Homo sapiens: one gene and its partners. The protein of the gene in region 2 purifies or fractionates together with the protein of the main gene of each other region. This does not show direct contact. Each region holds a gene or a part of one and is shown on either strand. Other genes may lie near its edges. The genes, in order: PTH2R, AASS, ADGRG5, ACADM and SLC2A12.

Region 1 (4,694 bases), on a different chromosome or scaffold from region 2:
AGAAAAATTTTAAAAAGTGATCCAAAATGTATTTTTAAAACAAATTTTTAATTGATCCCACATGCCATGTACAATGTAGTAACAGCTCAAACAAGAAAAAGATATAGATGCAGCATGATTTGCTATCAAAATACATTACAAACAAAATCAATTTGCAGACACAAGCTCACTAACTGAGGAAATCTTTCCACATGACATAGTTTACAAAGAAGAAAGAGTGAAGACCTGAGGTCTGGCTGGTCACAAAGAGGCCATTCAAAAGAAGGGATGTGTGAAATATTCTTTTTTGAGAAATTTTCCTTGTTCCCAGAAACACATGTAATTGTTATAAATGCATTATTTTATCAATGTCCAGCCAACTAATTTTCCAGCAAGTACTTGTTCTTAGATCTTTTATCTTCCCATATATTTTTTTAGATCCTAATTGCTCCTATGCACAGGCAAAATAAATGCAGTGATAGAAGTACATTAAAGTAAGAAATAAGAGAATACTAGTTTCTAAAAGGAAAATGATACACACTAAAAGATCTTCATTATATTTAGGGTGATATATATGAGAGAAAGCTACAGCCAAGCAATTGAATCTTTTTTCTACCCAAAAGTAGCAGAAAAAAATGAACAATCACAGAGCAAATACCATACATTAATTTAGAGGAAAACTTGATGCCAATAGAAGGTAATAAACTACTCCATTGACACTTGCATTTTCATGTCGTTAGTATTTACAGGAGCCAATTCATGGAGCCTAAAAACTATTATTAAGTAACACCTTAACTGAATTTTCAGCCTTTGAACTCAAGCATAGGAGTATCAGCCAAGCCCTCTCACACAACCAGCCATTGGACCAGCCCATGAAAGTCAGCCACAAATGTCCATTCAGAGAACATCCTCAGTTTCTCCTTGGCATCCTTCAGTGTCTGGGTTAGATTCCATAGGCCTGGAAGGCTTCTCCATTAGAATATCATCTCCCTGCCTCCCACTATCTTCCTTGGTCTCCTCGTGGAAAGAGTGTGGCAGGCAGTCCTGCTCTGAGTTACTCCAGACATAGCCAGGTAAAGTGATGTGGCTGTCAGGCTGTCTGCTGGCGATCTTGGCAGCTTTGCCAGAGATAAGCACCATGCGTGTGCTGGCCGCCACCTGTGACTGGCTGCTGGTGCTGTGCGTCACGGTGGTGAGCACTGAGCCGCATCTGCGGCTGCCACATGGCGGTGTCCTTTTCCAGTCCACGGAGAGGTTCCACCGACTCCACATCTTCTTCACCTCTGCCTGAACCTAAGCCACGAGAAACATGCTGTGCATGAGAAATCCTAAAGGAGACCCTGCAGCCTTGTTACAAAGATGTTTGCCTTGATTTCAATGACAGCAATAATCATTGATTGAGGTTCCTCTACGTGCCAGGGACTTTATCTATGACTTTCTCTCAACCTCAAAAAACCTTCAAGACAGGTGTTAGTTTTGGAGGTGAGCAAATTGAAGCTTAGAGAGAGGTGAAGGGACTTGTCCAAGATCAGACTTTAAACAGAAGTTTAAATGCAGCCCATAGAAATACCTGACATATGGGAGAGGAAAAAAAGGAGATTCTGGGTTGGAAGAGAAACTCAAGATAAACATTGCCAGTGAGAACTTCAGAACTCTCGCGTGGCACATGACAAGCCCACTGGAACCCCTGCACTGAGACCTGCCCAAACTCAAGCATGGTTCTAGCAGCACAAGGTGGCATCCCTAGGATGATCTCAGCCATTGATAGTGCCTGCCTGAGAAAGCTCAGTGCTGCCAGGAGAATTTACTATTTGCTCTAGCCAGCACACACCTGATGATAGGCCCATGACTCCCCTTTCTTAGGGCATTTACTAAAAAGGTTCACAATTGTAAATATGTAGCTCTTCTAACTCAGAAGCATCTCTCTCAAGGACCTGAGAGCCATCCCTTCAAAATATAAAAATCAAGAGGGATAAGGCCTCTTGTCTCCCAGTCTCTGTGGGAAGATAGAATTCTATCTTAAATAACTGCCTGATTGCTAGCACAGCTGGCCTAAACGTGTTTATACTGACCAAATATTTTTTCACTTCTTTGACTCTACTGAGCCCTTACACTCCACCTCCCTCATTCTCCCTTTAAAATGCCCAAATCACTTCTGTGTGAAGTGGAATTGGGCTCAGCTCTTTCCCCTGCTGTCAGTAGTTACTGAATAAAATCTGTTTTCACCACTTAAATTGCTGATGTCTTTGGCACCAGCTGAGGCTGAGGAATGGCGTAGAAGGTACTCAATTTGAAATGTAACTGTCATGCTATCAATCTGCATCGGCAGCCTAAAGGAGTCAGAGTGAGAAAAGAAGGCTCGTGGATAGAAAAGCAGGCACTGCAAATGCATTCTTAATAGGGTGGGGCTCTTATTTCCATTCCTACTACTGAAGATTCATTTCTACTTCAATTGCCACTTTTCAGAAGAGAGTTTATTTGGAAGTTCCATGGGAAGCAGTGGAAATCCAGTATGCTGATGTCACCTGAAACAACAAACTTCTATCTGTTCATCTTGGCAAAAACAAATCAACACCTGACTGACAGAGCAGAAGCACCATCATCTTGGATAAACACCACCACTTTAAGTCCAGCTCCCTTTCTAACCTCATGCATTTTGAGGAAATCACTTCCCTTCTAACAACAAGCAGCCAGAAAGAGCAGACAGTATAAAACACTGATAAGACAGCTCGGGCACAGAGGAAGTGGAGAAAGTCTCTTGGGTAACCACAAAACTTCACAGTCTACAATGGACCCCAGTAAAACAGTGGGTCCTAATAAATACATTCCTTTCCCTTTAGGTGCACCAAGATATGGAAGCTAAAAGCAGACTTGGGGGGCGGGGGGTAGGAGGGGCTGTGCCTGCAGCTGCAGGAAGATGTATGGATAAAACACAAAAATTCTCCCTCCCAGATAAGCAAGACAAAGAGATACAGAAGCAGTCCAAGCCTGTGATAAGCTCTCCCACCCTGAACCCTTAAAAACTCTTAGTCTGTAAGAGAGAAGGCTCTCTGACCTAACTTGGCCAGAAGCCCCTCCCAGGTTTATTCTCCTAAATAAACCCATCTTTGACTGTTGAGTGCTTTTTGGGTTTCTTTCCTCTTTCTTTAACTCTTAAACTGACCTACTTACCCCTCCTGCAAAATAAGGTAAGAACAATACACAAGTAAGTCAGGAAATTAATTTAAGCTCTTTCTGCAAGCACTGGACTAGCATGCCACAATGTCCAAACCCTAAACATGGTCAGAAGCATCAGCTGGTGTACCGCAATAAAAGTATCTGTGCACTTCTGGGGCCTGCAGCAAGCTTAAAATTTGAGAGAAGAAACATGGCAGCTCATCCAACAGCAGGGCATATTAAAAGTTACAAGGTAAAATGTATTATTATCTAGTGTAGTTACTTCTCTCCAGCCAACTCCTAAATGAACTAAAATTGTCCCATCATCATCTTATAGTTCAAAAAACATCAAAATATTTGAATGAATTTGTCCCAGGGAAACTAATAAGTTTTGTACAGAACTTAAAATGGAATAGAAGTTTAAGTATTAACCAGAATATGATGTTCACTGTCCATCCAAGTGTCTGTTTGTATTCCAACAAGTTGCTTTTTAATGTCAGAGTGTACAGATGAGTTCACATTTAAAAGTGCTAGAAGAGGAAGACTTTAGGTTATTTGCACTAATTCTTTCTTTTCCAAAATAATTTATGATTAAAATAGCTTCCTTCTCCTCACCCATTCCATCCTGGAAATCCTGGAAATTCTAAAGAGATTCAGGATACATTGTGATGGCCATTTACAAGCTGAAGCGAGACCTGTCCAAGGTTCCTACAAACCTACCTCTCCATTGCAGTAGCAGTAGATGATAGACACAAAGAAACCCTGCAGACAAAAGAGAAAGTCAGCCCACTGCCAACTCAGAAACTCACAGCACTTAAGCATCTTGTGCCAAAATGTGTACGTCCAAAAATTGTTTTTTATGATTCCTTCAGAGAATTATATACAAATTATTCTCTCCTAGTGTTTCCAAATCCTTATGTTTACATTAAATTTGTTTGACGTCTTTCCTTGGTGTCAGCTGAACCAAATAAGTCACTAAATAAAGCATTCCAAGATACACAAGGAATAGGTTTCTATCCTATTAGTTTCATTTATGTTGTGACCCATGGATCACATAATACCTATCCTCTGCTTGGTAAGAGGAAGTTATAAGCTGTAAATGCTGAAAACTACAAACATAAAGTATTGTATGGTAAGAATACAAAGAAACCTTTTATTTCGTTCATTCAAAAATATTTACTGAGCTTATGCAGTGTGGTAGCTGTTCAGCATGACAGGGGCAGGGATAAACAATGTAAACAAAACAGACAAGTTCCCTGTTCTAGAAAGGAAGAGACATGGATAAAATATAAACAAATAGCACATGAGAAAAATGCAAAATGAGAAGGGTTATGCAAGAAAAGAAATGAGTGATTTTAAAAAGAGTAATGTAGTGGATGTATTAGATGAGGAACTCAACAAAGTATCTCTGAGAGTGATACTCAAGTGTGTTTGAGTGACAAGAACAAGTAGCCAGCTGTGTAAATATTTGGGGAAAAAGCAGTCCAGGCAAAAGGAATACAAGTGTGAGCCCTAGAGGCAGAGGTGAACTTAAGCAACAGAACGTATGGAAGCAATAT
Region 2 (4,694 bases):
CCTATACCCCAAGAGACAAGTAAGCAGAATATGTCAAATAAAATAGTATCAGTAAGTATTTCAGGGAAGGGCTGGCATTTCATTTTACAGCAGATTTCTTAGATACAGAAGACCAGAACATTCACAGAATTACTCAATTATTCAATTTAAAGCCACAGAGTTGTTACTGATATTACCAGTCTGCTTACCATTTCTTCAACATAAGGGTAAAGCATGTCTCCAAAGCATTCTGTAGCTTCAATTGGGAGCTGTGCCGGCAAATTGTCAATGGAACACATCAGGATCCCCGAGCCTTCAACACTAAAAGCAGCAATGTGGTTTATTCAGAAGCACAAAACATTATTTGTAAGTTCTGACTTTTCCAGATGTCTACTCCACTATATTTGCTTCATTATCATTTGTAATTTTGTATAAAAGTATACGCGAAAATAAACAAAACTTTTCAAACAAAACGTTTTCCTTCTTCAGCAACCCATCTCACATTTAAATATATTTGTGTATGTGTGTGTGTTCAAATGTGCATGTTTTTTTCCCCAAATTTTAGTATGTTTGAGTATATCTCTCCAAATTTTCATAACTTCATAAAGATGTAAAATACTGAGAATTTTAGAGTAGTATATCAATGTAACTAAGTGAGGAATATCATCTAACAACTTTAGCAAACTCACCTGTCATGAATAATATGCTGGTCTGCATCATACATGCAAAAGGGATGCTCTATTGTTGTACACTCAGTCATAAACTCTATAGACCCTCCTGTGTCAGCTGAAATGTCACATATTGCCACGAGTCTGAAAATAACATCAATACTTAGATGAGAGGATGAAATTCTGAAGTCTCCAACAAGACTAAAAAAAAAGGAGTTTGGAACAATTTTCAATGTGGATCCCAAATATTTTCCAGGCTTTTGGGGTCTTTTTCCTATAGCTCATTCTTCAGGACTCTGCACTGTTCTGTGATACAGAGAATCTTCCCAGTATGAATTTTAGTCTCCAAAAAAAAAAAAAAAAAGAAAGAAAGAAAGAAAAGAAAAAAGGAAACAAACGCAGAAAATTGCTTTCCTAGAGAAATCATTAACAGACTAAAGTTAACATAGTTATCTCTAAATAACTCAGAAAGGTTCAATTATGCTACCTCCACCCTGCTTAGTACTGTATAGTTTTACATGTGGTTACACATAAATCTCTAGAATTACGAACAAAAGTTTCAGTCCAGCATTCAAAAAGTTGACTACAATTTTTCTGCCCAATCTCCAATTACCACTTGCATACATGAACCAATGTAGAGCTAGACTGACACATTCAGCACCCTAAATATGCTTTGGTAGCTCCATATTTATTAAGCACCAATCCTTTCACTTGGAATTCTTGTTCTCCTCATTCCTCCCTTTAAGGTTTGCTGCGCCCAATGCTTCTGCTTTCTTCTAAACCCTGGTGATGTTGTTGCTCCTAGCATTCCCTTGGCATTTACTTGATGCCAGTTACATGCCTAGAAAAGCAGACATATCTTTTACTCTTCCACAAATATTAATTAATTAATTCAATATTTAATAATTATTTCAATGCCTATTATATATCAGGCAACGTACTAGGTGCTTGTGGCCAAGAGAAAGAGACCCCCTATCCTCAAGGAGATTAAGTTCTAGGAAGAGGGAGAAAAATCATAAACACGAGAAAATAAATGAGGAATTTCAAAACAAAAAACAGAGTAACAGACTAGAGATAGAGATGAGAATGGAGAAACAAGAGAAGACTTCTCTGAGCAAATAGCTTCAGAGCTGCATGGGGCATCACAGAAGACAAAAGAAGAATGTTTCAAGAAGTGGAGGTGGGCTGGGCATGGTGGCTCATGCCTATAATCCCAGTACCTTGGGAAGCCAAGGCAGGAGGTCTGCTTGGGGTCCAGAGATTTAGACCAGCCTGGGAAACATAACAAGACCCCATCTCTAAAGATAAATATATACAATAAAATTTTAAAAAAAAAAGGAGAGATGGTTAACAGTGTTGAGTACTGCCAAGAGGTCAAGAAAGATAAGGCAGAGAAGTAGTCATTAGAAATCAAGTCCTCTGATATGTGATATTTGATCCTCTAATAATGGAAGCAGCTGGTCAAAACTACTATCGTTGCTGAAGTAGAGTCCTTACTTGTGTGGTAATGCAGGGCAGCCTTCCACACCAGCAGGTGAGAACTTGCCCGGAGCCAGGAGACTCTGAGCATCTTGGCGGGTTAGGAGGCGAGGAGTGTTTTGTTCCCAGTAGATTCCATTAATTAAGCAAGTTGTATAGGGTGCAATCTGTAATGCAAGTTCCAGGTTCAAGAAAATAGAAAATAGCCTATTTTAATACAGTATACTGAAAGAAAGCTATCAGTAAATTCTATGAGAAATAATTAAATGTAACTTCTAATTGATTTTCTTATTGTCCATGTCAGTGTCCATCTTTTGAGGCAAAGATATTAAATAGCCACCCAGATTTCAGTATAGAATTACCCTATGATAGAGAAATATATGACTATAAATACATTAGTGTGTTCATTCTATAATGTATTGCATGCCGAAGAAAAATGAAAGGACAAAAACAAAACAAACAAAAAACGGTGGACCTAAAATTATATTTCCAGCTCTAATATCAGTAGGGTATGACCTAAATCATGCTACCTCAACTTCCCTGGGCTCTATTTTTCTTACTTGCCAGATGGGGATAATACGCACCCCATTCCTCAAAGGAATGCTGTGAAGATTAAATCGGATAACATCTGTAAGCTCTATGGAGCAATGTGCTACATACATGCATACATGGCAACTAGGTCAGTATCAGTTTTAGGATGCATCCAATCACCAATACTTCTGTGATTGGGGAAATGAGAAGGAATAAAGATTTCTTAGATTCCAAATTTTTCAGTTTGAAACTATGTTCATAATTTTTCTTCTTCAAACATCTCAAGCTGAAGGTAAGAATTCTTTTCCCTAACATGCCCTGCACGATATAAGGGCTAAACTTCATACCAGAATCTGAAAATGTTATGTTGGTCAAACATATTTAAAATTATTTAAAGCATTCTTTTTCACAATAAATGCATGCATTTTTTGTTTTATGTATTTTTTGGTTTGTTAGTTTATCTGGGGGAAGAATGTTGCATGGCCAATGACTATAGAGCACACAAATATATTTTATTTCTTATAAGATGTGTGTCGCATCGAAGGATTTGATTTGTAAGTGTAATAGCTTTTTCATTCAGTGGGGATGGTCTGCACTTATATAGGAACGCTATTTAACCCTCACCCTGATAATCAATGGCATGCATTTCAAGATTGCTGGCTGAGATTATGGTTGCAATTTGCGGCCATGTTGAGACCAAACGTCATAGGCATTATGCTCTGCCCACAGTGCTAACTAGTCCAGGATAAATACAGAAAACAGTAACGCACAGGAAATGGCTTAGCGCTATTGGGCACATGTAGACCTGAAGCAGAAATGGAGACAGTGAAACAAAGAGTGTATCCACAGAAACCACCAAAAGCACTAAGCGAGACTACTCCAAATACCATAAAAGATGATAGCTCCAAAGGCCAAATCATGATACCCAAAGGACTCACAACAGGAAAACTGAAAGCCATTGTACAATTCATAATTTCTCTCCTTGAAAATAGCCTACCTACACTGTATCATAAGCAACCAACTTAAAAGGTGAATATGATACTCACATCAGTATTAAAACGACTTATGTAGCGCTCCGGATGTTTGTCATACTCTGCAGGATCATACACAGCATCTGTTTTCCTGACAAGATGATGATGACGACTTAACACCGTCCCATACACTTTTCTGAGGTCTTGAAAAGGAGAAAGAAATTAGTAAAGTGGGTGACAAATAATAAAAATTTATGGTGATAAAATATTATAACATAGACTGTTAAAAACATTAAAAGTTAGTCATCTCCTGTCCCTTACCTCCAGTTTGGGAAACTTCTTTTAATTCATGGGGCTCCACATATTCACAAGGTAGCTCATTAAAGATTGCTTGGGCTCCCTACAAATAACACATGAGTAAAAATCCAAAAATCAATAGAAAAAGAACCAACATGGTTTTCTGCAAAGATCTGATCATTTTCCCAACAATTACATAGCTCCACTTGCCTTCCCTACAACCAGGACTGCAACACAGAAATACAGATGAGTTGCTTACAACCAGCCTGCTAGCTAGCTTTTATTCCTGTTAGAACAGCACACTTAGAAAGGGCTTTAATTTTTTTCTTTTTTACTTAAGCTACTCAGAGTATCGATAAGAGTGTTTAGAAATGAGGGAAAAATATTTCCATTTATTTTAGATCCATTGCAGAAATTATTTCAAATGGGGAAATTATATTTCCTACAAAAGAAATAATCAGATGCTTACCTCACAATATAATAAGAATGATATCCTATTTGTAAAATATTTTCTTTGAAGCAGGAATTATTTTACAATGACAAGTTTCTATAGGAGATTACAAACACATTCTTAAAACCACCAGAGAAGGAAGAAAGCATGAATTCCAGTCTTAAATGAATCTTCCTAACATCTTGTTTGCAAAACTCCAAGTAGTCTTAAAAAATGGTTATCGTGAGGTCACTTTCAAACTCGTGGACATTTTGGTGATGGAGGTAAAACAGATCACCCTCAGAACAGACCTTTACACTGTTAACAATGAATTATCTT
Region 3 (4,694 bases), on a different chromosome or scaffold from region 2:
AATTTAACTCAGAATGGATCACAGATGCAAATAACAAGACTAAAACTGTACAGGTATACCTGGCTTTATTGCATTTTGCAAATCTTGTGGGTTTTTTTTACAAATTGAAGATTGCAGCAACCCTGCATCAAGGAAGTCTATCTGCACCATTTTTCCAATAGTAAGTGTTCACTTAATGGCTGGGTCCTGTTTTGGTAATTCTCATAATATTTCAAACTTTTTCATTATTATTATACCTGCTGTGGTGATCTGTGAACAGAGATCTTTGATGTTACTATTGTAATTGTTTTGGAGTACCACAAACTGCGCCCATATAAGATGGCAAACTTAACCAATAAATGTATGTGTTTTGACTGCTCCACCAACTAGCTGTTCCCCTGTCTCCCTCCCTCTTCTTGGGCCTCCCTATTCTCTAGGACACAACAATATCGAAATCAGAACAATGAATAACTCTACAATGGCCTCTTAAGTGTTCAAGTAGAAGAAAGAGTCACACATCTCTCATTTTAAATCAAAAGCTAGAAATTTTAAGCTCAGTGAGGAAGACACGTGAAAACCCAGATAAGCCAAAAGCGAGGCATCCTGCACCGAACAGTTCACAAAGTTATGAATGCAAAGGAAAAGCTCTTAAAGAAAATTTAAAGTGCTACTCCAGTGAACACATGAAGCAAAACAACCTTATTGCTGATATGGAGAAAGCTTCAGTGATCTGGATAGAAGATCAAACCAGCCCCCGGCCAACGTTCCCTTAAGCCAAAGCCTAGTTCAGAGCAAGGCCCTAACTCTTCAATTCTATGAAGGCCAAGGTGGGTGAGGAAGCTGAAAAAACGTGGAAGCTAGCAGAGGTTGGTTCATGAGGTTTCAGGAAAAAAGCCATCTCCATGACATAGCAGTACAAAGTGAAACAGCAAGTGCTGATGGAGAAGCAAGTTATCCACAAGAACTAGCTAACATCATGCATGAGGGTGGCCACATTAAACAACAGAATTTCAGTGTAGATGAAAGAGCCTCATATTGGAAGCGGATGCCATCTAAGAGTTTCATAGCCAGAGAGAAGAAATCAATGCCTGGTTTCAAAGCTTCAAAGGACAGGCTAACTCCCTTGTTAGCGGGTAATGCAGCTGGTGACTTTCAATGGAAGCCAATACTCATTTAACATCCTGAAAATCCTAGGTCTCTTAAGAGTTATGCTAAATCTATTCTGCCTGTGCTCTACAAATGGAATAACAAAGCCTGGATGATAGCAATCTATTTATAGCATAGTTTCCTGAATATTTTAAACCCACTGTTAAGACCTACTACTCAAAAAAAAAAAAAGATTTATTTCAAAATATTTCTGCTCATCGACAATGTACCTAGTCACCCAAGAGCTCTGATGGAGATGCACAAGGAGATCAATGTTGTTCTCGTGCTGCTAACACAACATCCATTCTGCAGCCCATGGATCAAGGAGTCATTTCGACCTTCAAGTCTTATTATTTAGGAAACAAATTTCATAAGGCTATAGCTGTCATAGATAGTGATTTCTCTGATGGATCAGGGCAAAGTAAATTGAAAATCTGGAAAAGATTCACCCTTCTAGATGCTGCAAGAACATGTGATTGTGATTCATGGGAAGAAGTCAAAATATCAACATTAACAGGAGTTTGGAAGAGGTTGATTCCATGCTTCATGGACGACTTTGAGGGGTTCAAAACTTCAGTGGGGAAAGTAATTACAGATGTGATTAGAATAGCAAGAGAACTAGAATTAGTAGTGGATCCTGAAGATGTGACTGAATTGCTGCAGTCTCATGATCAAACTTGAATGGATGGGGAGTCGCTTCTCATAGATGAACAATGAGTGGTTTTTTGAAATGGAATCTACTCCTGGTGAAGATATGGTGAACACTGTGGAAATGACAACAAAAGATTTAGAATATTAAATAAATGTAGTGGATAAAGCCCCTGCAGGGTTTGAGAGGACGGACTCCAATTTTGAATGAAGCTCTACCGTGAGTAAAATACTATCAAACAGCATCACATGCTACAGAAAAACATCTTATGAAAGGAAGAGTCAACTGATGTGGCAAACTTCACTGCTGTCTTAAGAAACAGCCAGCCACCCCAACCTTCAACCACCACCACCTTGATCAGCATCAAGGCAAGACTTTCCACCAGCAAAAAAGCGTGTGATTTGTTGAAGGCTCAGATAGATTGCTAGTACTTTTTAGCAATAAAGTGTCCTTTAACTAAGGTATGTACATTTTTAGACATAATGCTTTTGTACACTAAATAGACTACAGTATAATGTAAACATAACTTTTTTCATGTGTGAGACAGTCTCGCTCTGTTGCCCAGGCTGGAATGCAGTGGTGCGATCTCAGCTCACTGCAACCTCCGCCTCCACCTCACAGGTTCAAGTGATTCTCCTGCCTCAGCCTCCCAAGTAGATGGGATTACAGGCACACACCACCATGCTCGGCTAATTTTTGTATTTTTAGTAGAGATGGGGTTTCACCATGTTGGCCAGGATGGTCTCGATCTCCTGACCTCATGATCCGCCCGCCTCGGCCTCCCAAAGTGCTGGGATTACAGACATGAGCCACCGTGCCTGGCCGTAAGCATCACTTTTATATGCACTGGGAAACCAAACAATTTGTGTGACTCACTTTATTACCATATTTGCTTTACTGTGGTGGTCTAAAACCAAACCCACAATATCTCCAAGATATGCCTGTAAAACTCCTTGGAAAAAACAAAAAAGAAAATCCTTCTGACTTAGGTTATGCAAAGATTTCTTAGAAACAACACCAAAAACGTGATCCATGGCAACAACAACAACAAAAAACTGATAAGTTGAATTTCATCAAAATTAAAACTTCTGCTTTTTGAAAGTCATGGTTAGCAAAACGAGAAGATAAGCCACAGACTGGGAGAAAATATTTACAAACACATATCTGATGTTTTTAAAAAATTGTATCTGGACTACATAAAGAACTCTTACACAACTAATAAGAGGACAAACAACCCAATAAATATAGGAAAAGATTTGAACAATCACTATACCAATGAAGATGTATATAGATGGGCCGGGCGCGGTGGCTCATGCCTGTAATCCCAGCACTTTGGGAGGCCGAGGCGGGTGGGTCACCCAAGGTCAGGAGTTTGAAACCAGCCTGGCCAACATGGTGAAACCCCTGTCTCTACTAAAAATACAACAATTAGCCAGGTGTGGTAGCATGTGCCTGTAATCCTAGCTGCTCAAGAGTCTAAGGCAGGAGAATTGCTTCAACCCAGGAGGAGGAGGCTGCAGTGAGCTGAGATCATGCCACTGCATTTCAGCCTGGGTGACAGAGCTGGAACTACATGTTAAAAAAAAAAATGTATAGATGCAAATAAGCACATGAGAAACACTCAATATCATTAGTCATTAGAGAAATGCATATAAAAACCACAATCAGATATCACTACACACCTTCTAGAATGACTAGGATTAAAATGGTAATACAAAGTATTATGAGGATATAGAACAGCTGGAAGCCTCATTCATTTCTGGAGGGAATGTAACATGGAAGTGGAATCTAGAAAAGTCAAAACTATTGGATCAGAGAACAAATCAGTAGTTGCCAGGGAGTAGGGAAAAGATATTAACTACAAAAGGGCCTGAGACAACTTTTCAGGGGACAGCAATGTTCTATATTTTGATTGTAATATACATGTATACATGACTGTACACATCTGTCAAAATGCAAAAACTCCTCTCCAAAAGGGTGAATTTTATTGTATGTATACCTCTATAGACAAGACTTTAGAAATCCAATCAAAAAACATATTAAGAGGATGAAGAAGAGGAAATAGGGGAGGGAGGGCAAGAGAACTGATGATCCTCCTCTTAGAGAAAGGAAGTCAACAAAAACTTGCAAGGCTTCAAGAGGGAGAGCCACAAAACTCAAAATATGTGTTTGATGGTAGTGGCAGAGGAAAGTAGTTAAGAACATGAGTTCTCATTTTTCCACCATTGGATCTGCAAAGATCTGAAATATGATAGCACCCAGTGAGTCTGTAGGGACAGGCACATTCCTGCACTCTCTGTCTAAGATCTGAGCCTCATCTGCAAGGGGACGGCTTAGCAACACATTCGAACTTTACGTTCTGAATATCCTTTAAGCCAGGAAACTCATTCTTATGAATTTATCCTATGGAAAGAATAGGGCAAGCCAGGATTATACACATACAAGAATATTTAGAATAGTATTGTTAATAAAGAAAAGTTGAAAGCTATGTGAATGTCTATCAATAGAGGAATAAATAAATTACACTCCAATGCCATTCTGGAAAACAGTTCGACAGTTTCTTATAAAACTAAACATGTACCTATCATATGACCCAATAATTGCACTCTTGGGCTTTTATCCCAGAGAAATGAAACCTCGTGTTCACACAAAAACCTGTATATGAAGAGTCATAGCAGCTTTATTCATGATAGCCTCAAAGTGGGTGAAAATGGTTAAATGGTGATACCTTTACACTCTGAAATACAATTCTCAGCAGTTAAAAAAATGAATTTCTAAAAAAAAGCTACTGACACACACAACTTGGATGGATCTTAAAGGAATTATCATGAGCCAAAAAAAAAAAAAAAAAAGCCAATCTCAAAATGTTGCATGCTGTGTGATTCAATTTATTTAACAGTCTTGAAATGACAAAATGATA
Region 4 (4,694 bases), on a different chromosome or scaffold from region 2:
TGCTGAAGGCCTTTTCTGCATCTATTGAGATAATCATAAGTTTTTGTCGTTGGTTCTGTATGTGATGGATTACATTTATTGATTCAAGGTATGTTGAATCAGCCTTGCATCCCAGGGAGAAAGCTGACTTGATCGTGGTGGATAAGCTTTTTGATGTGCTGCTGGATTCAGTTTGCCAGTATCCTCCTTTAGCTCGGAGAAGTTTGTTATTACCAATCATCTGAAGCCTTCTTCTCTCAACTCGTCATTCTCCATCCAGCTTTCTTCCGTTGCTGGCGAGGAGCTGCATTCCTTTGGAGGAGAAGAGGCACTCTTGATTTGTAGAATTTTCAGCTTTTCTGCTCTGGTTTCTCCCCATCTTTGTGGGTTTATCTACCTTTGGTCTTTGGTGATGGTGACGTACAGATGCGGTTTTGGTGTGAATGTCCTTTCTGTTTGTTAGTTTTCCTTCTATCAGTCAGGACCCTCAGCTGCAGGTCTGTTGGAGTTTGCTGGAGGTCCACTCCAGACCCTCTTTGCCTGGGTATCACCAGCAGAGGCTGCAGAACTGCAAATATTGCAGAATGACAAACATTGCTGCCTGATTGTTCCTCTGGAAGCTTCGTCTCAGAGGGGCACCCGGACGTATGAGGTGTCAATCGGCCCCTACTGGGAGGTCTCTCCCAGTTAGGCTACTCAGGGGTCAGGGACCCACTTGAGGAGGCAGTCTGTCTGTTCTCAGATCTCAAACTCCATTCTGGGAGGACCACTACTCTCTTCAAAGCTTTCAGACAGGGAGGTTTAAGTCTGCAGAAGTTTCTGCTGCCTTTTGTTCAGCTATGCCCTGCCCCCAGAGGGGAGTCTACAGCAACAAGCAGGCCTCCTTGAGCTGCAGTGGGCTCCACCCAGTTCGAGCTTCCCGGCCACTTTGTTTACCTACTCAAGCCTCAGCAATGGCGGATGCCCCTCCCTGAGCCTTGCTGCCGCCTTGTAGTTTCATCTCAGACTGCTGTGCTAGCAGTGGGTGAGGTTCCATGGGTGTGGGACCCTCCAAGCCAGGCGCAGGATATAATCTCCTGGTGTGTTGTTTGCTAAGACTGTTGGAAAAGCGCAGTATTAGGGTGGGAGTGTCCTAGTTTTCCAGGTACCATCTGTCACAGTTTCCCTTAGCTAGGAAAGGGAATTCCCCGACCCCTTGCGCTTCCTGGGTGAGGTGATGACCTGCCCTGCTTCGGCTCATGCTCTGTGGGCTGCGCCCACTGTACGACAAATCCCAGTGAGATGAACCCGGTACCTCAGCTGGAAATGCAGAAATCACCCGTCTTCTGTGTCACTCATGCTGGGACCTGTAGACTGGAGTTGTTCCTATTCAGCCATCTTGGAACCCTTGGGCAGATCATTGTATATTTTCTAATACCACACATGAAATGGCTAAACAATTATTTAATTGTGGATTCCAAGAATAACCTGACCCTTTTCATTCATAATGCTATACATAGAGTACACAGACTGAAAGACAAGTGGCTGGACACGGTGGCTCACGCCTGTAATCCCAACACTGGGAGGCCAAGGTGGGTGGATCACAAGGTCAGGAGTTTAAGACCAGCCTGGCCAAGATGGTGAAACCTCATCTCTACTAAAAGTACAAAAGAAAATTAGCCGGGTGCAGTTGCGGGCACCTGTAAACCCAGCTACTCGGGAGGCTGAGGCAGGAGAATCACTTGAACCCCGGGGGCAGAGGTTGCAGGGAGCAGAGATCGCACCACTGCACTCCAGCCTGGGCAACAGAGTAAGACTCCGTCTCAAAAAAAAAAAAAAAACAAAAAACTGAAGTTTCAAAGGGCACACAAATGGGTTGAGAGACACCTAGCAAAGGAGTGACAAGGAATTACAGTGTCATATCACTGTACCTACCAATTAAAAATGAAAAACTAGGCCAGGCGCAGTCACTCATGCCTGTAATCCCAGCACTTTGGGAGACCAAGATGGGCGGATTACTCAAGCTCAGGAGTTCGAGACCAGCCTAGGTAACATGGCAAAACCCCATTTCTACAAAAAAAAAAAAAAAAAGCTGAGCATGGTGGCTCACACCTATAGTTCCAGCTACTCAGGAGGCTAAGGTAGGAGGATCACTTAAGCCAGGAGGCAGTGGTTGCAGTGAGCTGAGATCACACCATTGCACTCCAGCCTGGGCAATAGAGTGAGACCCTGTCTCAAAAAAAAAAAAAAAAAAAGAAGCTATCAGCATTTTGCAGAGTGCTTAAAAGATAAGCAAATCTTCAGTAGAAATCAAATGATAAAAGACTATTTTGAGTTAAGCAGTAAGGAAAAACTAAGATTTTTCAATATTTAATAAGAAAAAAATCTTTAGAATTTATAAGAAAGAGAACATAAAAGGAGAAGATTCTATATTGAGTTGAAAGCCAAAAATACAGTTATCATCAGATACTTGGGTAAGGAGGACCTGGAAGACGATGACAGATCTTCACTGAAAAGCATTAGGTTGAAATTTGTTTATGAATAAGATAAACTAACATTTAGTAAAATGTACATATGTAGTTCTGGCAACATGAAGGAGTTAACAAAGAAATACTTGGTTAAGAAAAAAAAAAAGCTCATAGGAAAGAAACAGAAATCTCTAAGTGCCTCTAAAAAGGAATTTAAATCCTGAGAAGAGATAACATGGAGGAAAAGAAAAATCAGACTCAGATTTGGGCTCAGCAGGATAGGAACCAGAGTTTTAAGAAACACATAAGAACAGGAGATTTCGATGTGAGCATGAACAATCTAAGGGGCTAAAACTGAGAATCACTGCATGTAAAAGCTTTGCTTTCCAAAGGGGCAATTAAAAGTCTGGGCTCATCAGCATAGGAGGGCCACAAAGAAGCTGATCTCTTGCCCAGGAGGGTTAAAAAAAGAACAAGAAAAAAAAGGACTTTTGTTATTGTTGTTGTTTTGAGACAGGGTCTCACACTGTTGCCCAGACTGGAATGTACGGAGTTTCTTAATGTGTGAGATCAATGTACGAGCTCTGTGATACAGGATTCTCCAAGTCAAGAAATTAATGTAAAATAACAGCTCTTAGAATGGTGAAATCTCTGGAGTACCTAACAAAAGTGCCAAAAAAGTACAAAAGCCAATTTCTAAAATGCTTCCATAATGCTCTGAGAAATAGAGTACTTCCTGCAGGTAAGTTGTTTACAAATAAAAAATAAAAGCAAAATAATTGACCATAAAAGAGTTAGAAGACACAATACACCTTGAAAGATTAGCACCCAAAGAATTGAAGATAACAAAAAAATCTGAAATTGATTATAAATGAAGAATTTTTACATGATTAATGAGAAAAAAGGAAAAGGCGGTATGATGTTGAACAGAAGGTATAATGGAAAAAACCAAATATAACTTCTGGAAATGAAAAGTAGTCATTAATAAAAAATCAACAGATTAAATAGATTAGGCACAAGATAAGAGAACTAGAAAGCAGATCTGAAAAAATTATCTAGAATATAGTGTAGAAAGATACATTATGAAACTAAGGTTAAGGGACACAGAGCAGTGCTAATCCAAGTTTGTCCACAGTGCCAATTCACAAACTGTTACTGGTTGATGGTACAGAAGATGAGAATAAGCATTTAGACACTTTTACAGCAATTTAACATTGTTGTGACATTCTTATATTTTACAAAAATAATGGTCCACATTAACTGGAAATTAAAACAAACTGGTCTTTCACCACAAATAGTTTGAGAACCACTGACAAATGGAGATAGGAATAGGAGGCTCATGGGGGGCTGAGGTGGAAAGATTGCTTGAGCTCAGGTGTTTGAGACCAGTCTGGGCAACATAGTGAGACCTCATCTCTACAAAAATAAAAAAATTAGGCAGGCATGGTAGTGTGCCCCTATAGTTCCAGTTATTTAGGAGGCTGAGGTGGGAGGATTGCTTGATCCCAAGAGGCTGCAATAAGCCATGACTGCACCATTGCACTCGCATTTGGGCAACCAAGACCCTGTCTCAAAAAAAAAAAAAAAGAGAAATAGGAGGTTCACTATACAACTCATAGTGAGTTGCAGGAAAGAATACAGATAATGGGGGAGCATCAATATTTAAAGGGGTAAGAGTTAAGAATTACCCTGGAAATTCATGGAAGACACGACTCTTTATAGTACTAAAATTATCTGATACTCAAGAGGACATGGGAAGTAACAAGAATTAAGAGTATAACATAGGCCAGGCGCAGTGGTTCAGGCCTGTAATCCTAGCACTTTGGGAGGCCGAGGCAGGCAGATCACTTGAGGCCAGGAGTTCAACACCAGCCTGGCCAACATAAGGGAACCCCATCTCTACTAAAAATATCAAAATTTGCTGGGTGTGGTGGTGTGTGCCTGTAGTCCCAGCGACTCGGGAGGCTGAGGCAGGAGAATCACTTGAACACAGGAGGTGGGGGTTTCAGTGAGCCCAGATCATGCCACTGTACTTCAGCTTGGACGACAGAGCAAGACTTTGTCTCCCACCCCCCGCAAAAAAAAAAAAGCAAGGATCCTGGATCTGTGACTTATAAATTGTGTGGCCTTGGACAAATCATTTAATACCTCTGAGCTTCAGTTTCTTGATCCTTAAAAGAGATAACACCACCCAAAAAAGGGTTACTGAGAGAATCAGAAAATATATATATATTTTCTTTTTTGAGACGGAGTCTCACTCTGTCGCCC
Region 5 (5,436 bases), on a different chromosome or scaffold from region 2:
TTGCTGAGTGCCAGACACGCAGAATACTATAATAAACTAAACAAACATAGTCCATACTCTCATAGAGTTTGCAATCTAGCAGAAAAGGCAGATTTAATTGAATCACCGCATTTAACTGTATTAAATACATTATGGTGTGCAAAAGGCTGGGAAGGAGAAGTACAGGGTTCGTAACAGAATTGAGGCAGAGTTTCCCCCCTCTAGTCTGGGTGAAAAAAATTTTCTCCCCTAAACTTTTCTCTGAGTTAAGAGATTGAGGTAAGTACAAACAGAGCTTGAGATAGCCAGTGGCCCCGGTCAGGTCACCAGCAGAATAAAGAACAGAATTAGGAGCACCAGGAGGTGATGTTGTCAGTTGCATTGCTGAGCATTCTTTTTGACTCCTGGTTGGCTTACTATGCCTGTGGATCTCCTGTATGGTTTGGCTACACAAAACAGAGTGAGAACTGTTGAACTGCTTTTAACCATAGTAAAGTATTCTGGAATTAGTTTTGTCTTCTGTCTAGTCAAGCACTATAGCAAACACTCTAACACTCCCATGGGGCCAAGAAGCTGCTAGAAACACAGGTTGTGGGATCACGAAACAAAGCAATGATACAACTAACCCATTGCAAGAACATTTTCCCCCTAATGAGGTCATTGGTTCTGAGCAGAAAGAAGTTAGAAGCCAAGAGAATATAGAGAACTTATGGGAAACATATGTGTCTCACAGATAGAAACTGGGACTCCTATATAATTATAATGCACCCTGGGAACAAATAAAATGAGTTGTTTCAAACCATGGTTGCGTTACACATTCTTTAGTGGGGACACTGATGTGTGGGATTCTGAACTTCTCACCCTCTTAATCATAAGGGGCCTGGATTATGCCTGGAGGACTTCCATTTTCTAGCACTATCAGCAGACATACAACGGGTACATAATAAAGACTAGTTGAATTATTATAGGTTTGTTTCCATTTGCTACCTGTTTCCCTGAAAGATAAGAAAAATATAGAATTATTTAATGACAAGCAAAGGAAATGTACAAATAAGTGAATTTAGAACTTTGAAGTGATTCAGTTAAAATGTTGAAAAGAAGTAACAAAAATTTAGCTTCTGCTTATACAAGCACAAATTTGTTTTTCTGTCCAGAGAAATGCCTATGACTAAAAGCCATATTTCACGGCATCTTCTTAAAGTCGAGTAGGTCTGAAACCATAGGAAGCCAAGAAAATTAGAGAAGGACAAGGCTGGGAAGTTAGAATATAGGAGAGTTACAGCTTTAGACCTCCTGGATTCATAATCTCAGCTCTACCACTGATTAGCTGTGAGACTGTAGCCAAGTTACCCAACCTCCATTTCCTCTTCTATAATGTTGGTACCTGCCTCAAAGTCATCATCTGCGTTATTGCGCTTAGCACAATTTCTGGCACATAAGTGCTCCACACATGTTAGTTTTTATTCCAAATGATTTTTAAGATGATCTCAATTTCCTCTATAAGGCTTTTTTTTTTAATAAACATGATTTGTTGAATGAATAACTGAAGGTAAAATGTCATAACCCTGTAAGACTTTTTTATAAATATGTTCACAAATCAGAAAAAGATCCTCTCTCATGACCTGATTTTGTTTGAGATTACATGTCCACCACACGCACACAATGGGCCACTTAGTCTGGCCTCTCTGAGTGAGGAGTATCCTCCTCCTACCTACGCAAACATGAAACCTAACAGAGGATTCAGTGTTAATTTGTCTCTTAAAGACAATTCTGCATTAAGAAATGGATTACTTTGCTATAACCTCAGCATATAAAAAGTCTAAAGAATCTGTGCATTCTGAGTTTGTGTATTTTTGGTCTCAGGCTGTGATTTATCTGAAAGGCCTTGGAGAGAAAGATATAGGCCTTTACCTAGACCAAAATCAGGTTGAAACAATAAAGGTATTTTATGCTTTGTGTAAGCTGGTAAATACCATGACTTTTGGAATAACAGTCTTGCTGAAAAATTGACACACTTTTCCTTCTGGTATGTCTTTGCATAAATTGTTCCTCTTTCTGCAAGATTAACTGATACCATCTGTGAGTATTCTATCCCCACTCTCAGCTTGCATTTAAATCTGCATGTTTCCTTTCTCTGCCTCTTTTCAAAGGTGCTAGAATACAAGAGCTACCCTTAGCTAATGGCCAAACACTCCGTCTGAGTTCCCTTTCTTTTAACCCCTTGCTTCCAACTCTGCATCTAAAGGCAAAAACAATCCTCTGACTCACGGCCCTCCCCCTGCCTGTGATAGGCTGCTTGGAATAGCAACAGCCTGTGTCACCGAAAAGGGCAAAGCCTTCGGAAATAGAAACAAAGTTGGTCACAAATCACATTAGCTTTGCCCGAAGTTTTTCCCCACACTCTTCTTTAGCATGCTATTATGGGGAAAGTGACCACTCCTGGGAGCGGGGGTGGTCGGGGCGGTTTGGTGGCGGGGAAGCGGCTGTAACTTCTACGTGACCATGGTACCTGTTGAAAACACCGAGGGCCCCAGTCTGCTGAACCAGAAGGGGACAGCCGTGGAGACGGAGGGCAGCGGCAGCCGGCATCCTCCCTGGGCGAGAGGTAAAGTGAGCCTGCAGTGCTCGGGTGACCGCAGAGAAGCAAGCTGTACTCATCTCCCGAGTGTACTGTCTCTTGAGTCCCGTGTGTGTGTGTGTGTGTGTGTGTGTGTGTGTGTGTGTGTGTGTGTATGCGCGCGCGCGCATGTGGGCGCGCTGGATGAGTGGAGAGAAGGGGACAGGGTCTGGTGGGACGTGGGACAGCTCGGAGCTGTAATGTTGTGAAGATCGAAGTCTTGGTGGAACCTTATGTGCCAAGAAAATACAGGTTACACATCCACCACTGGTATGATGGGTCCCCTTGATTGTGTTTACATAATACAATGTATGGATGTTTTTCATATTGGAACGGTCCACTGGCAAAGATAGTCTCATTTGTAAACACACACAAGCACACGCTTGCTTACACTTTTTCATTTATTGTCACAAATGGACACTGTGTAACCAGTTGACATTATAACCACTGTTTTAAAAATCAGTATTTTAAACAGGCTTCATAAAATTATTAGTTATGTAATCAATGAGAACACAAACTTCCTTTTTAAATTCCCAGCACGTTTGTGATGAATTTGAGCGTTATTCAGAGCCTGAAACGCTTGCTTTGCTGGGTTCTGCCTTCTTTAAAACTGGCCTTGCAAACTGAGGTTTGTTTGCTATGATGACCTTCTGAAGGTGAAATTTGGAAAAGTTTTAATTCATTTAATGATCTTTGATAAATCAGAGGCTGGTCTTCACTTCCACATTTACAATTCCCACAAATACATTGTACGCTTTTTGCTGCCTCTTCCTGCTCATTTAGTTTGTGCTGCAAGGAATAGAAAGTAATTGTAATATGAAATGACAACAAACACAAAAAATCTTCTCTTTCCTACTACTTTCCTCAGCTGTGTATTCTTAATCAGATATTACATTCCCAAGCAGCATATAGAAATTTCATGCAAAATCCAATACACTAAATGATACAAAAGACATCTGCCTTTCTCTTGGGAATGGTCCTAATACTGACGTTTGCCTTGTGGGTTTGTCTGATCTTGGGGAATCGAACCTGTGACCCCTAACATCGAGGCATGAAGCGGCCCTCTTCAGGAGTGGAGAAGCCCTCCATCTTCCATGTCCTGATCTCTTCTCTTGCTTTCACACTTCTCGTCAAGAATGAGGCCGGGCGTGGTGGCTCATGCCTGTAATCTCAGCACTTTGGGAGGCCAAGGTGGGCAGATCACTTGAGGCCAGGAGTTCAAGACAAGCCTGGCCAACAGAGCGGAAACCCTATCTCTACTAAAAATACAGAAAAATAAAAAAATTAGCTGAGCATAGTGGCACATGCCTGTAATCTCAGCTACTCAGGAGGCTGAGGTACAAGAATCACTTGGAGGTTACAGTGAGCTGAGATCATGACACTGCACTCCAGCCTGGGTGACAGAGTGAAACTCTGTCTAACATAATAATAATAATAATAATAAAAGAATATCTGGGGTCATCTTTCAATATGGCCTGTCCTCTCCTATGCAGAAGTACCCTTTTCCCTAAGCGCTTGCTACTCATTGGCCCACAAGTTCCCTAAGAGCAGGCAAGGGAAACTTATATTTGGAGATAAAGGGAAAGAGTTGCAAAGTTCTTTTCTCCAAATTCCTGGGAACATGAGCTGCAGTCTAGACTGCAGAGCAAGCTGAGGTGGTGATGTTAACAAAAGGGCTCACTAAATACAGTCAGTGATAATGTCACAAAGAAGATGAAAAGAAACTGCCTAGGAAGAGCCTTTGTAGTAACCATTAAAAATGGACTGTTTATTTTGATATGGCTTTGAAGGTACAATGTGCTCTTAATAGCTTATATTGTACAAATTCACAATTATCCAGAAGAAAGATAATGTGTATTTACATTTGCAATAGTTGGTTACATGCACAAAATTCAACTTAAAGTGCAACTGTTTATGTTGTAAAGAAATAATAAATGAATAAGTACCATAAATTATCTTTCAAATTTAATTTTAAATTAACTTTCATTTTGTAGAAGAGAAAGCCTGAATGTTTCCTTAAAATGTCAGATGAATACAACTTTGATTTGTGCTATACATAATCTGCATTTAGATGAATGCAAACCTTTTATTTTCTACTTTTGTAAATTTTCTTAACTTATCTTAAACATCTTTTGGCACCCAAAAGCAATTATACATACATATGTATAAATGAATGCATAGTGCAGACTTGCTGTATGGTTTTCTTAAGTTACTTAAAGTCTCCATTCATTAATATTGGGATTGTATCTTCATCTATTTTATGAAGGTGTTGAGATTTAATGAGGTAATATTTGTCAAATACTCCTTTTGGCTTCTTCATATTTTCAACTTCCATAGTTTTCATTTAAGACATTCAGAGTATTTAAATTATGCTCAACAATTATCACAATATGTCTGCATTTGAAGGTAGCAAGCTTTTCTACATTCCTAGATGGAAAAATCAAAGCACAAAGAGGAATGAGTTATATAACTCAGGACAAGGTAATTAAATCATGTGAGATACTGAAAAACAAAACAAAACCAACCCCCTAAGGTCTGCAGTTGAACTCCCTTGATGCTATTGTGCACAGTGAAAAATTTTGGTAGGTCTTTCTTGACTAACCCTCTTTAACTGAAAAGAATGCTTTGTTCCAATGACTAGAAGCTAATGAACTTAATTCATTTTCAATAAGCTATGACTCAAAGTGGTTACATTTTTAGTAAATTTTTTCAGCTTTCATGGACATGTTCCAATCCATCTTAATATAGGACAGGATTAAGCTCAGTTTGAAATTCTGGTGCCTAGAGTTGACAACAGATATAAATGAAGTGAGATATTAGACGGATGGAGCAACTCACAC

What was found.
Region 1: the proteins of AASS (region 2) and PTH2R purify together in Homo sapiens (co-immunoprecipitation; one large-scale study listed by IntAct). This does not show direct contact.
Region 3: the proteins of AASS (region 2) and ADGRG5 purify together in Homo sapiens (co-immunoprecipitation; one large-scale study listed by IntAct). This does not show direct contact.
Region 4: the proteins of AASS (region 2) and ACADM fractionate together in Homo sapiens (co-fractionation; one large-scale study listed by BioGRID). This does not show direct contact.
Region 5: the proteins of AASS (region 2) and SLC2A12 purify together in Homo sapiens (co-immunoprecipitation; one large-scale study listed by IntAct). This does not show direct contact.

Annotation. Positions count from the first base shown.
Region 1 is NC_000002.12:208,489,842-208,494,535, reverse strand, and holds the end of PTH2R (parathyroid hormone 2 receptor isoform 1 precursor), read right to left. Parts: intron 3,898-4,694; coding exon 3,856-3,897; exon of another isoform or gene 3,751-3,855; intron 1,273-3,750; coding exon 877-1,272; 3' UTR 30-876; downstream 1-29. UniProt on the Homo sapiens protein: This is a specific receptor for parathyroid hormone. The activity of this receptor is mediated by G proteins which activate adenylyl cyclase. PTH2R may be responsible for PTH effects in a number of physiological systems.
Region 2 is NC_000007.14:122,112,930-122,117,623, forward strand, and holds part of AASS (alpha-aminoadipic semialdehyde synthase, mitochondrial), read right to left. Parts: intron 4,029-4,694; coding exon 3,950-4,028; intron 3,832-3,949; coding exon 3,704-3,831; intron 2,294-3,703; coding exon 2,145-2,293; intron 792-2,144; coding exon 669-791; intron 301-668; coding exon 189-300; intron 1-188. UniProt on the Homo sapiens protein: Bifunctional enzyme that catalyzes the first two steps in lysine degradation.
Region 3 is NC_000016.10:57,548,652-57,553,345, reverse strand, and holds part of ADGRG5 (adhesion G-protein coupled receptor G5 isoform 1 precursor), read right to left. Parts: intron 1-4,694. UniProt on the Homo sapiens protein: Orphan adhesion G-protein coupled receptor (aGPCR). Ligand binding causes a conformation change that triggers signaling via guanine nucleotide-binding proteins (G proteins) and modulates the activity of downstream effectors, such as adenylate cyclase.
Region 4 is NC_000001.11:75,751,315-75,756,008, reverse strand, and holds part of ACADM (medium-chain specific acyl-CoA dehydrogenase, mitochondrial isoform a precursor), read right to left. Parts: intron 1-4,694. UniProt on the Homo sapiens protein: Medium-chain specific acyl-CoA dehydrogenase is one of the acyl-CoA dehydrogenases that catalyze the first step of mitochondrial fatty acid beta-oxidation, an aerobic process breaking down fatty acids into acetyl-CoA and allowing the production of energy from fats.
Region 5 is NC_000006.12:134,049,526-134,054,961, reverse strand, and holds the start of SLC2A12 (solute carrier family 2, facilitated glucose transporter member 12), read left to right. Parts: upstream 1-2,337; 5' UTR 2,338-2,481; coding exon 2,482-2,584; intron 2,585-5,436. UniProt on the Homo sapiens protein: Insulin-independent facilitative glucose transporter.